Regions from separate parts of the Homo sapiens genome. Here all the other regions are reported to be linked to region 2. Evidence: microRNA targets listed by miRTarBase, many of them from high-throughput screens and not tested one by one. Region 2 holds a microRNA gene; each other region holds the end of a gene's coding sequence. Distances are from middle to middle.
Evidence for each region. The annotated mature microRNA hsa-miR-4506 reads AAAUGGGUGGUCUGAGGCAA and lies in region 2 at 2,966-2,985, shown strand. An mRNA with a match to its seed (bases 2 to 7 or 8) in the 3' UTR can be bound and repressed. Matches are read on the target gene's strand: a 7mer-m8 pairs with bases 2 to 8, a 7mer-A1 pairs with bases 2 to 7 and ends in A, and an 8mer does both.

Region 1: the mRNA of ASPH is a reported target of hsa-miR-4506. Seed matches in the 3' UTR shown: 7mer-A1 at 839-845.
Region 3: the mRNA of RAD51B is a reported target of hsa-miR-4506. The part of its 3' UTR that is shown has no 7-base or 8-base seed match.

Annotation. Positions count from the first base shown.
Region 1 is chr8:61,499,961-61,504,315 of GRCh38, forward strand. It overlaps ASPH (aspartate beta-hydroxylase), which reads right to left. Exons shown (of 25, transcript NM_004318.4): 25 at 596-3,549. The coding sequence ends at 3,399. CLVS1 (clavesin 1) reads left to right here. Exons shown (of 6, transcript NM_173519.3): 6 at 1-1,669. Among named protein-coding and RNA genes, the nearest start is that of ASPH, 210 kb to the right of the region's middle.
Region 2 is chr14:93,947,218-93,951,217 of GRCh38, reverse strand. MIR4506 (microRNA 4506) reads left to right here and starts at 2,916; the gene lies at 2,916-2,992. It overlaps ASB2 (ankyrin repeat and SOCS box containing 2), which reads left to right. Exons shown (of 10, transcript NM_001202429.2): 6 at 1-219; 7 at 3,698-3,869.
Region 3 is chr14:68,477,097-68,481,451 of GRCh38, forward strand. RAD51B (RAD51 paralog B) reads left to right here. Exons shown (of 11, transcript NM_133510.4): 11 at 552-997. The coding sequence ends at 568. Among named protein-coding and RNA genes, the nearest start is that of RAD51B-AS1, 210 kb to the right of the region's middle. RefSeq lists an enhancer at 1-247.

The sequences.
Region 1 (4,355 bases), not on the chromosome of region 2:
CAGACACCACTGTCAAGTTTCATGTAGTACAAAGCCCTGAGACAATAGTATCTCCAGTAATTTCCATTCTTACTGAATTATTTCCTTTGACCTCATCACCAGCATCGAATTGTTCAGCCTAAGAGCATGTTCTCATAGGTCTGGGTATTTGCAAAGTTTGCTTATTTTGATGATATCCTGCAAAAAATTATTTTGATGTCACATCTCTTGTCAGGTCACTAGCTGACTGTCATGAGCTGACGTTAAAGGAAGACACATGGACGTGAAATACGATTATTTCATCTGAGCAATGTGAGTTACCACAGGCAGCTCAAAAGCCCATTAGTGCAGCATGTGTCTGCAGAGGAGATGTCTCATGAAAATCACATGTCAGTGATTAATGAATCCATTCCAGTTGCCTCAACTGGGTCACTACAGCAAAGAAAAGTGCTATCAAACCATTTACCCTTGCCCCCACAACCCTCCTGCAACCATTAAAGATGTGGAGAAAGACCATGGTTGTTGCTGAGAGGGTAAATATTCAATCATGGAGCATGACCCATATGGATGGCTAAATATGCAAGTACTGAAGTAAGAGAAGACTAGAAATGCAGGATGAAATGTCAAAGGTCATTTTATTTACCTAGTCTCCTTAGAAATGGAGTCCCCAACTACTCATTCAAAAGAAATCAGACATAAAATAAACAGACATCATATATGATATCCTTACTTGTGCCATGTTTTCCAAGACCAGTGCATATTTTTAGACATCTCTTATTCGCCCAGCCATCTGCATGACATGGGTATTTATTAGTATTACCAGTTGGTGCTCAAAGTCAAACAAAAATATTTTAGTTAATAATGGGCAGTAAAATATGATTTTACATTATTTTAAATATTTGGGAGAGTTAATTTGTTAGCTAAATAATTCAAGGGAAAGAGATTATTCAACTGGTCATAATCACCCCTGATAATATTATTACTAATCTTAATTATTTATTACATCATCTCTTTCTCAATGGATCTAATGTTTTAATTTTTTCCCCTATTGGTAGAGAACAATAACAGAAGTAATTTTTATATTATACACTTGGAGAAATAAAGTTGAAACAGAATTAAAAATATTTCTCAAACAACTGTATCACAATATAAATTAAACTAATTCATTTTTGTGTAGACATACGAAATCACAAAAATAATAACACTGAAATAATTCTACCAATGCAGTGATGGAAACACTTTTCTTATGTACCAAGACATAGATAGGTAAGAGAAATAAAGAATTGAAGTGAATTAGAAAATCCATTTTATTGCTTGGGTTTAAAATAGTTGTGGGATACAAGTATTTACAATGCTATTGGAGTCAATTATTGACAACACTTTGCAACAGTAATACCATTTCTAGCTTTTCAATTGGCAATACTTAGAACCTTACTGTAGTGACCTGATTTTAAATACCATATTATATTTACTAAGTTAAGAGCTAGTTTTTACTCTCTTCCATAATTTCATTACATGAATGTAAGATGATGGCTCAAAAATGACGACTTATAGTTTGAATTTATGTGTATGCAATATACATATGAGAACCAAATTCAACAAGTGACATGAATGTTACTACATGAACATTGAATTGTATTGCCCTTGTCAGTTATTTCCTCTGTTCAATAAATACTGAAGGTCACAAACACCTTTTTACTTTTCAAGAGTTTGCCTTCTCTTCTCGATTTTAGTAATTAATTTGGATATTTTTCCTCCCATGCCTCTTCATCTGATTTAGTGGGATGTTTTCAATACCAGCAAAACAAAAGAACAGGAAAAGTATTTTGCAAACTCATCTACTGGAAGCTAATCTCCTTAAGGTCAAGCAAAAAGGGTCAATTTCAATTTCAAAGAGCTGTTCTTTAAATGAGATAAAGAAAGTCTCCTTTTGTTTTTAGATGGAAAAGAAAGCACAAGTTTTTTCTACCTGTGAATGAACTTTGGTGACCTATATGTGCCATTCATGCAGCATTTTTGTTCATATTGGCTTAGAATTCAGTGCATGAATATCATTACATTCTTATATCTAACATTCCTAGTTAGCTTTGATTCAAAATATACAAAATCTGATACATGAATACTTTGCTAGATTAATGACTTGATCATCTTTGGAATGAGTAGGCAAGACGATTTTTACCTATTATTTCTATGTTGTGGGTAATGTTAAAACTAAATACAGATGATAATAATTGCTATTTCACAGTGATGTTTAAAATGGCAGAGATTTCTCAAGCCAGAGAGATGGGACAGTCTTCCAAACTCTTTCATCAAAAAGGAAAGTAATCTGGACCTCCTACGCCCAAGAAAAACATCCTGGCATTCTTGGTAACCTTTTACTCTGCCATCCTTAATCTTTCTACAGAATTGTAGCAGAAATCATCTCCAAGACTGAAGAGCTGGCTTCCTGACATTCACATGGATCTACCATAGGCAAAGACACTGTGTTCCCAGCCCTTGCCTCATGGATGGCAAAGCCGCCAGGAGCCAGACACCCTAGCAGCCACCTATCCACCCAACCCTGAAAGAACATAGTTTTATTTCCGTGAACTATACTTTTTCCCCAGAAGCTCTAATAATTGGCATTAAAAAAATTTGCATCTGGGATTTTTATAACAATATAAAATAATTCCATGCTCTTTTTTCGGTGTGAAAAGTTCCTCTTTGAAAGAAATAGGATTTTGTCAATATCTCCACCACTAGCATAGTGAGAAGAGGATCTCAATCAAGATAAAAAAAACCAAACGATTTGAGAGTTGGGATGGGTACAGTTCATAGACACTGACATAATGAGCTCTTTCTTTTTTGTTAGGAAAATAAAACTGCTTTTTTCATGAGTATCTTTTACTAAGAAGAATTAAAAGAGGGAAGTCTGAGTTCCCCAGTAATGCTACCATTAAATAGCTAGAAGTAAAGCATTTATACAGCTTGTCATTAAAATAAACAAAAATGTAGTGGTACATGATGACAAAATAGTCTAGCTACACTAGAAAAATATAACTGCATAGAAAAATTACAAACTAAAGCAATCCATTCACAGTTTCTACATATGTTCTCATTATACATTGAATTAGACCTATTCTATGTGGAAAAAATATCTTTGGCTGGTAAGGTAGAAGCTATCAAATGTTCACCTTAAATACTGGCAGAAGACCAGTGCTGTCATGAGATGACACACAGCAGGGTGTTTCCTAAATGAATTGCAGCGAGGCAAATATTCCCTTTAGTGTCTTCTGACCCTAGGAGGAGGCTTTGAATTACTCGGGCTGCAAGTCAAGGGAATTGACTCTTGGTGTTCGAAATTCTATCCTCACACCCAAGGAGATGGAACCAGAAAGGCAGCCTCTCTCCAGAGTTTCCCAAGCTTGCATGAATTCATGCTAAATTGCTGGAAGGCTGCGTCTCTGCTGTGGTGTCAGTTCCGGATGCCACACATCCACGATGAATATCAGCCGGAAAGATGAGGCATCCTGCCATACCTCGTGCTCAAAGGAGTCATCAAAGATGAGCACCTTGCCTTCCTCCCAGGTCCTGCAGCAGAAAGACAAGGATTCCTGAATATAGTTTTGTGTGGTTCAGATGTCTGAGGATCGATTCCTGTCCATGTGCGAGAACTACCTTTGGTAACAACCTTTGGGACATAACCAAATAACTAGAACATCAAGCCCAAGTTTATTCTTCCCTTGATGATTAGGAAAGAATTTCAGAAATCTTGCTATGAACATCAGTTTTCATTGCTCAGTGCTGGAGATGTACAAACAACAGAGGATTTGTGATGAAGACATATTGGTCTCATTACATGCCTTGCAATTATTCTGTATATTATTACATGTCTTGCAATTATTCTGGTTTAGACATATGGGCAGTGACTGGGTCTCAGGCATCTCTATGCCTCTCAAGACACTTCCAATCAATTGTCTTTTCAGCTCACTCCACTTGTTCAAGTTTCATTTTATGGAAGAAAGGAATCTGCTTAAACACAGTACCATAAAGCAGAAAACTAAATTAGGAGTTTCCTAGCTAGTATTCCAGCTGAAGAAAATGGGCAGATTGGGAATAAATTTTGTTTATATTTTTAGTATCATCTTCTATGCAAGTGGGTTATCCATGGGATATTTTAAATCAATGCTGCAAAACACCCTATAGAGCTTCCAACTTTACCTCATAAGATATCTGTATAGGGACTGCGATCTAAATATAGTGTTAGTCTATTAAGAGAGAAACATACAGGAGGCAGTAACACAATGCTTTTCAAATCCAAAGAGAGTTTATGAGGGACACTGATGGTTCCTTATTTTAAAAATAGATATTAACTGCCAATATATTAAATACCAAGT
Region 2 (4,000 bases):
TGAAGATTCTGGTGCAGCACAATGCAGACACCAACCACCGCTGCAACCGCGGCTGGACCGCTCTGCACGAGTCTGTGTCTCGCAATGACCTGGAGGTCATGCAGATCCTGGTGAGCGGAGGAGCCAAGGTGGAATCCAAGAACGCCTACGGCATCACCCCCTTGTTCGTGGCCGCCCAGAGTGGACAGTTGGAGGCCTTGAGGTTCTTAGCCAAGTACGGTGAGTGGCTAAGGGTCCCTAGGTCATGGAGTCCCCAAAGGGCACACGGGAAGGATGTCAGAGGTCAGCTCTAAGGGAAGGCGAGTTAGGGGTCATCTTGTGCGCACACTGATGGAGTGAGAGTTTCCTCCTAGAGTGCTGTGTTGAGAAAGATGCTGAGGCTGTGTCCAGGCTCAGTGGGAAGAGCGTCGGGATCCACTAGTGACATCTGCCATTAGAACAAATATGGGGGGGTCTGGCCCACGGACCACCTATTTGCCATTTATAATCTAGTCCAACATTTTCATTTTACAAACGAGGAGTCTGAGGCACAGAGTGAGGAAGTGACTTATCTATAGTCCTATAGCAAATTAATTGTAGAACTAGCTAGACTCTTGGTCTCCTGACACCCCAACCGCTTCTCTTTCCACCACATCACACTTCAGGGCCAGAAGGAACCTCAAGCAACATTTAGATCACCTCCCCCTTTTATGGGTGATGAACTCAAGGACCAGGATGGGAAAGTGATTTGTCCAAGGTCACACAGCAAATTAGTGGCAGAGCTGGGACTTGAACCCAGCTCTTTGCCCTCTTTGCCTGTGAAATATCTTAATGGGAGAAAATAACACAATACGGCCTGCATTATGATGGCCCAGTAGCAAAAGACCACGAGACATGGCAGACTTGCTTTTGGTTTCAGAACATTATATCCTGATCTTCCCCAAGAATGCCTTTGATTTCTTTTCTCTCTCCACGGGAAGTAACCCTCTCTCTAGCAACAGAGAAGCCAGAGGTAATCCAGACGCTGAGGCTGAACTGTAGGAATCTGTTGAGGACTTGCTAAGTGTGAACACAGATCGGGGCAATGGAGCTTTCCCCGTAGCCCCATGTGGTAGGTAGTATGCTCGTCCCATTTTATAGATGAAGAGACTGAGGTTCAGAGAGGTTAACTAATTGGTCACAGTCCAAGCCTGGATGCTGACCCACTGCCATCTGACTCCAAACTGCACATGCTTTGTGCTCTGCCAGCCACCCTACCCTGTGAGAGTCGGCAGCACGGGACTCTGCCCAGGTAAGCATCCATGCACTCAGCACGCGCCTGAGCAGTGGGGAACATAGGTGCAGGCCCTTCCGTGCAGCCAGGAACAAATCTGGACTGCCCAGCGTAAGAACAAAGGGGCACAGGCAGGGTCCTGGGAGCCCAGGCCGGGGGTCCTGGTGACGGACAGCATGCTCAGCAGGCAAGGGTGACCTCAATAACTCCAAACATCTGTCCAGGTCTCCCACCGACACTCTGAGTCAGGGTGTGTTCACTTTGTGGGCTGAGTCCATTTTCCAACCCAAATATTTTTCTTGTGCAAGCAGGCGGCTTTGCTGGTAGGGTCCAGGCTCTCCAGGGCACCTGCCTCTGAGAGCCCAACAGAGGGTTAGGGCGGCTCACTGGCTCTCCCTCAGGCCGGAGGCAGGACGAAGGCCTCTGCCCAGCTCCTTCCATCCTGAGCAACTGGCATTTGCTGAGCAGCTTCCCTGTGGCAGGCACTGCGCTGAGAGATGTGCTTACACTATTTTGTTTACTCCCTGCAGTAACCCCGAGGGGTAGGTACTATTATCCCTGGTCAACAGATGAGAAAACCGAGGCTCCTAAAGGCTTTCTGAGACTGCAGAGCTTGTGAGCCATGAAACAGATGCCTCAGCTGATTCTCATCTGTCGCCAAAGCCTGTGCTGTTTCCGCTGGATCAGAAACTGGTCACACCATCATCAAAAATAATAAATTACCAGAAAGCCTGAGATCAGCAACATGCTTAGAGAGATGACCTGTGGTTAGCAGATGCTTTTGATTTTAGCCCCACTGACATCTTCAAGCATCTTAGTTCCATGTCCTTCCAGAACAAGGAAGGACTGCTGAATTCTCTTTCTGCAGAGAAAGCTGTGTGCACATCAGTTCTCCCCCTCACCCCCTGCCCGAGGAGATGAAGCAGGTGTAGAAGACTGAGCTGAAGGCAGATTGTCACCAGGCCTGATTCCTCCTTCTAGCAGCATGGATTAATGTTTTCTGGGTTTTGTTTTGTTTTTGTTTTGGGAACAGGGTCTCACTTTGTTGTCCAGGCTGGAGTGCAGTGGTGTGATCCCGGCTCACTGCCGCCTATATCAACCTCCTGGGCTCAAGTAATCCTTGCACCTCAGCCTTCCAAGTAGCTGGAACTACAGGCATGTGCCACCATGCCCGGCCAGGGGCTACTCAGTAGGTGTAGAGAACAGAGTCTCATTAGGTTACCCAGGCTAGTCTTGAATTCCTGAGCTCAAGTGATCTGCCCGCCTTGGCCTCCCAAAGTGCTGGGATTACAAGTGTGAGCCATTGCACCTGGCCTAGTATTTTCTTGGGAGGAGACAGAAAGTAATTCTCTTATTCCTTGAAGTGAAAGGCAGAGAATTAGCAATTAGCAAGCATGCAGGGAATACCTAGCACAAGGAGCACTAGTGATAAGAGCTAGAAGTTATTGATAGCAGTAAGGATCAATATTAATAGCATGGTAACATTAGCAATAATAATAGCAATATTAATAGCAAATTGCAATTAATAATGTTATTGGGGTTTTCCTTTATTAGGGGCTCTGTGCCCTCCTAGACCTGTGAGGCCTCTCTCAGGGCAGAGCCCAGGCCCTCTTACATGGAGTGAGGGTTAAGAGCATGGCCTCTACCATCAGAATATCCACCATGGCCTCTGCCATCAGACCATCTGGGTTCAAGTTTGGCTCCATCTTTATGAAATGGGTGGTCTGAGGCAAGTGGTCTAGGTGTTCTGTGCTTCACTGTCCCCATCTGTAATCTGGAGATAAGAGCAGTACTGACCTCACAAGGTGACCACCCACTGTGGATTCAGATATAGCCTGTGGAAAGCACGATGTTCAGCACGTAGTAGGTGCTCAGGAAAAACCAGCATCATCGTGGCTGCTTGTAGCCTCTCAGAGGCCTCTGTTCGGGCTGGCAGGCCCCTGGGTCTTTTTTTTTTTTTTTTTTTTTTTCCAGGCGGAGTTTCACTCTTGTTGCCCAGGCTGGAGTGCAATGGTGCAGTCTCGGCTCACTGCAACCTCCACCTCCTGGGTTCAAGCGATTCTCCTGCCTCAGCCTCCCGAGTAGCTGGGATTACTGGCGCCCACCACCATGCCCAGCTAATTTTTGTATTTTTAGTAAAGACAGGGTTTCACCATGTTGGCCGGGCTGGTCTCGAACTCCTGACCTCAGGTGATCCGCCTGCCTCAGCCTCCCAAAGTGCTGGGATTACAGGCATGAGCCACGCCTGGCCAGGCCCCTAGGTCTTGATGTTGTTGAAAGAAGCTGGGGGTAGCCCCAGGTAGACTCCTCCTTCCTAAGGGTCGTTGTTAAAGGTCCCGTGCATTACCGTGGTTAGCACAGCAGGCCCACCACGCGGTGGCGTTACATTGAGGACAGCAACTTCCCGGTCACTTGGCCACTTGCTGATCTCTTCTCCTTCCCCAGGTGCTGACATCAACACGCAGGCCAGCGACAACGCGTCTGCCCTCTACGAGGCCTGCAAGAATGAGCATGAGGAGGTGGTGGAGTTTCTGCTGTCACAGGGTGCCGACGCCAACAAGACCAACAAGGACGGCTTGCTCCCGCTGCACATCGCCTCCAAGAAGGGCAACTACAGGTCAGCCCAGGCTCCGCCAGCACCCAGGCAGCTCTCCCGAGGCCCACACTGGGAGTAGGGGATTGGAGGGGTGGGCCTGCCCTGAATGTCCCACCCACAGGATTAGGGAGGCCCAGGAGAGGTCAGAATGG
Region 3 (4,355 bases), 25 Mb from region 2:
CATCCACTGGAACAAAGGGTGTGAGGCACAACCTTGTAAGGAGTGTTTTGGTCAGCCGCGTCCCTATGCGAGGCCAAGTCTCCCCCACAGGGCTGCTTTCAATGGCTACCATCATAGTGGAAGTATTGGGCATTTGTTAAGGACTGTGGTGTGCTAGATATAGCACAAAACATCTAAATCATGGTCCCCTGCCTTTGTGAGGGCTTCCTGGCTACAGATGGCAGCTGGCTTTCTCAGGGGAAACTTGGGGGTCATAGAGAAAGCTGAAGAGGGGTGCTTGCTTCTGTGGATGACCTCTTCCCACCCAGTGCAGCGACACTCCCCTTTTGTCTATAGCTATCCTTAGTCAAGCCAGGGCTGCGGGACCCTAACCCACACTTCCGCTGTGTTTCTGGATCTCTGGTTTGCAAGGCCAGTGGCTCTGTGGGCAATACGTATGAAAGAGGACTGCTGTTGGAGGAAAGTTCCATTTAGGTTGCTGGTGGGAAGTTAGTGCATTTCATAACAATTTTTTTTTTTCAAACTTTCTCTTTTTTTTTTTTTTCCTTTAGGCCAAGAGAAGCCATAGGGATACTGTGACCTTTGTCTAGAGTTGATGGGGGTGTGATTTGTGAAATAAAACAGGACCGTACTGCTTGGAAGAAGGAAACGGAAGCTGACATAATGGGGATTAATTAGTTGATTGCTGTTGAGATGGTAACAGATTTGCTCCTAAACCATTGAGCTAGCGATTTCAGACCTAGCAGGGAAGGTGAAGATGAAGAAGCCTTTGTTCAGGTCTCTAGATGTGTAGGGCTGAGGGCTTTGCCGCCATGGGATGTCAACAGCCATAATAATAATTTGCACTTATATAGCACCTTTCAACCAGGCACCTCAAAGCGGTTTAACCACATTAATTAATTAAAGCCCACAATCCTCCTGGGGAGAGGAGGAGGATGACTAACAAGATTTGTAATTACAGGAGGGAACATTTCCGAATAAAGTATTGTCTACCAGATAAAAAGAGTAGGTGTAAAGGAATTGGGGTCTCCAAATAGTAACCGATTCAGAAATGAAATCATGGAATGATGTGGGAGGCTGGGGGCGGGCATGGGCAAGGGGGTCGACTCTGTGTCAGAGGGAGGTCGATGGGCTCAGAATTCACTGACAGGTTCAGATCCAGCCGAGAAGTGGAGCATGTATGGTATTAGTGGCATTTGAAGGTCATTAGTGGCATAACTATTGTAGTGTAAATTCAAGTTTTATTGGTATATTGTGTATAGCCCTGCAGAACAAAGACTGAGACTCATGCAGTATTTAATAAAGGATGAAATGATTTCTTTAGATTTAAAGCCCAAAGCTGGGCCAGTCAATTAGCAAATAAATCAATTGGTGACCCGTAGGATAATTTAGTCGTTTCCAGTAGAACACCCAGCCTACACACTCCTACTGCCATGAGGCTCTGATTGAAGCATCAGACTGGGTTCAGGGCAAGGTCTGGGGGCTTTAGCCCCTTCAAAGCCAGGCATTAAATCTTTCCAGCCTTTGGCCTTGTGACCTATCTTACCCAGGTTGTTAGTGACCTCAAGCTGTCCTCTGTAGAATCACTTTGTACCTGCTCCTCCATCAGAGATTTTTAGTGCATTGAGGGCTAGAATCAAGTCTCATCCTATTTCATGTCTCCTATGAGTGCCCAACAGAGTGCTGTGCACCAAGTAGGTGCAGATTGATGAAGATTGATGAAGAAAGACTGAGTCCTTTAACGACTCAGTATTTGTTGAGCGCATACCAAGTGCTCAGGTAAAGCTTGAAAACAAAGCTCAGTGTGTGCCTGCCCTCCAAAAATGTACTCCAAGGAATGGGAAAAGACTTACAAACTATTAACTATAATATAAAGCAGAATCACATCCAAGCCCCGGGCAGCAAGGGCAATAGGAAGAGCATCTTATTCAGCTGGAGTGAATCAGGGAAGGTATTGGTGTGCTGTGCATCGGAAGGCAAGAAGGATTTGGGTAGACCTGGAAGAGGCAGAGCAGGAAGATGTCCCAGGCTGTGACCATGTGTCTCCCTCTGAGTGAGGTACATTTTGAGAACTTGGGATGTTCAATAGAATGTTGGTGAAAACCAAGGTGAGTTTTCGTATTTAATCAGGAAATATACATTTCCTGTGGATTCTTATGACATGAATTGGTTAATTTCAGACATCAAGGGACTATTTGAGAAGTTGGAGGTAGGGTTCAGGATACAGTACTCCAAAATCCGGCACGTTGGCCTTGAAAAAACAGCAGAGGCAGGAAGGCCGTTGTCACCTTCCCCTCACCCCTCCTCTCCTGAAGCAGGTTGTAAAATGTTCATTCCTGAAGTGTTCACTCTCTACCCAGAGGAAAGGAATGTCCTTATCTCTGAAGACACAGGGACAGAGAAGAATCTGAACAAACAGGCCTTGCTAAATTTCCCCCAGTTTATTCCCATTAGATCATACTCTTTAGTCCTCCAATCATACTTCTGCCTGACTGTCTACTCTTCATCAAACTTAAGCATAAAAATACACAGATTTCCCTGGTTTGGGGGTGGTCTTTCTTCTTATTCTTCTTTTTTTTTTTTTTTTTTTTTGCCAGAGTCTCACTCTGTCTCCCAGTCTGGAGTACAGCAGTGCTATCACAGCTCACTGCAGCCTCAACCTCCCAGGCTCAAGCAATACTCCAACCTCAGCCTCCGAAGTAGCTGGGACCACAGATGGGCATCACCACACCTGGCTAATTTTTTATTTTTTGTAGAGACAGAGTCTCTACTGTGTTGCCCAGGCTGGTCTTGAACTCCTGGGCTCAAGTGATCTTCCAGGCTCAAGCCACCTTCCCAGCTCAGCCTCCTAAAGTTCTGGGATTACAGGCATGAGCCACCGCGCCCAGCCAGGTCTTCATTTCTAAAGGTTCTCATGTCACATAAAACTTACGTTAAATAAATTTTTATGCTTTTCTCTTGTAAATCTTGTTGTTGTTGCTGTTATTGTTGTTTGAGATGGAGTGTTGCTCTGTCACCCAGGTTGGAGTGCAGTGGCATGATCTTGGCCCACTGCAACCCCTGCCTCCCGGGTTCAAGCAATTCTCCTGCCTCAGCCTCCCATGTAGCCAGGATTACAGGCATGTGCCACCATGCCCGGTTAACTTTTGTACTTTTTTTTAGTAGAGATGAAGTTTCACCATGTTGGCCAGGCTGGTCTCGAACTCCTGTCCTCAGGAGATCTGCCCTCGTCGGCCTCCCAAAGTGCTGGGATTACAGGTGTGAGCCCGGCCTTCTCTTGTAAATCTGTCTTTTGTTATGGGGGCCTTGGCCATGAACCTTGCAATGCGTTCATGCAAGATATTACTTTTTCTCCCCTACAGTTTCTGGTGCCCAATATGGGGTGACTGAGACACCCCACTCATTCTGGATCTTGCAGATGAGATCCTGGGGCAACTGACAAAAAGCTGGAAAAATTAGAATTCTTATCAAAGTCAGCTCTCCCAGATCTCTGTCTGTAGTGCTTGGTCAAGAGAGACGTTAGAAATTTCTCCTTGTCCCTTCCTTCCCAAATTCAGATTATCAGGAAAAAAAAAAAAATGTCTATATTGTGACTCTCTGACTAAATCTGGCTTTAAGGTACTCGTTTGTTACTGATCCTTTCCCTCGCAGGGACTGCTGTCTCTTTCCTTGTTTTTCTCAATTTCTGTCCTGATAACTTGGTTTGATTTTCTCCCTGTTGGGGCATGCAAGCTGTCTTGAGTTCCCCAACCAACTTCAGGGGAGGGAACTCAAGAATACGGCTGGACAGAAATGTGGGTTGCACCCTATTTCCAGCTATCCTACCAAGTATTGCCAGCTCTTGGGGGGTTTATTTGTATATTTCTTTTGACTCTCTTTGGGGGTAGTTCTGGATTTGGGAGGGCTGCACTCTCTTTTGAGAACCCCTTCTTAGTCCATGGTGAAGTCATAAAAGGCTCTTTGGTTTTGGTTGAGTCACTTAGTAGGTACTTTCAGTTTAAAACAAGAAAAAGGTAAATGTATATGTTTTTCTCTTGTTAATCTGTGTTTTCTTGTAGTGCTCTCAGCCACGAACCTTGAGATAGGTGAGGAAAATATATTATTTTTCCTCCCTTACATTGAGCAAGATGCTGTCTGTTCTCTGCAACTCCTAATTGTTCTCTCTTCACCTCCATTGTCTGCCACGAAAAAAAAAATGCTACATTGTTCACACATTAAAATGGATCACTCAAAAGTGTCTGAAAAAAGCAAGAGGAAAACATATCCTAATTCCAAATGTCAAAAATTAAGTGGCTCCTCCTTGAGACTACCTTTTTGACCCCAAGAAACAATAAGAGAGTGCCCTATACCCAGTG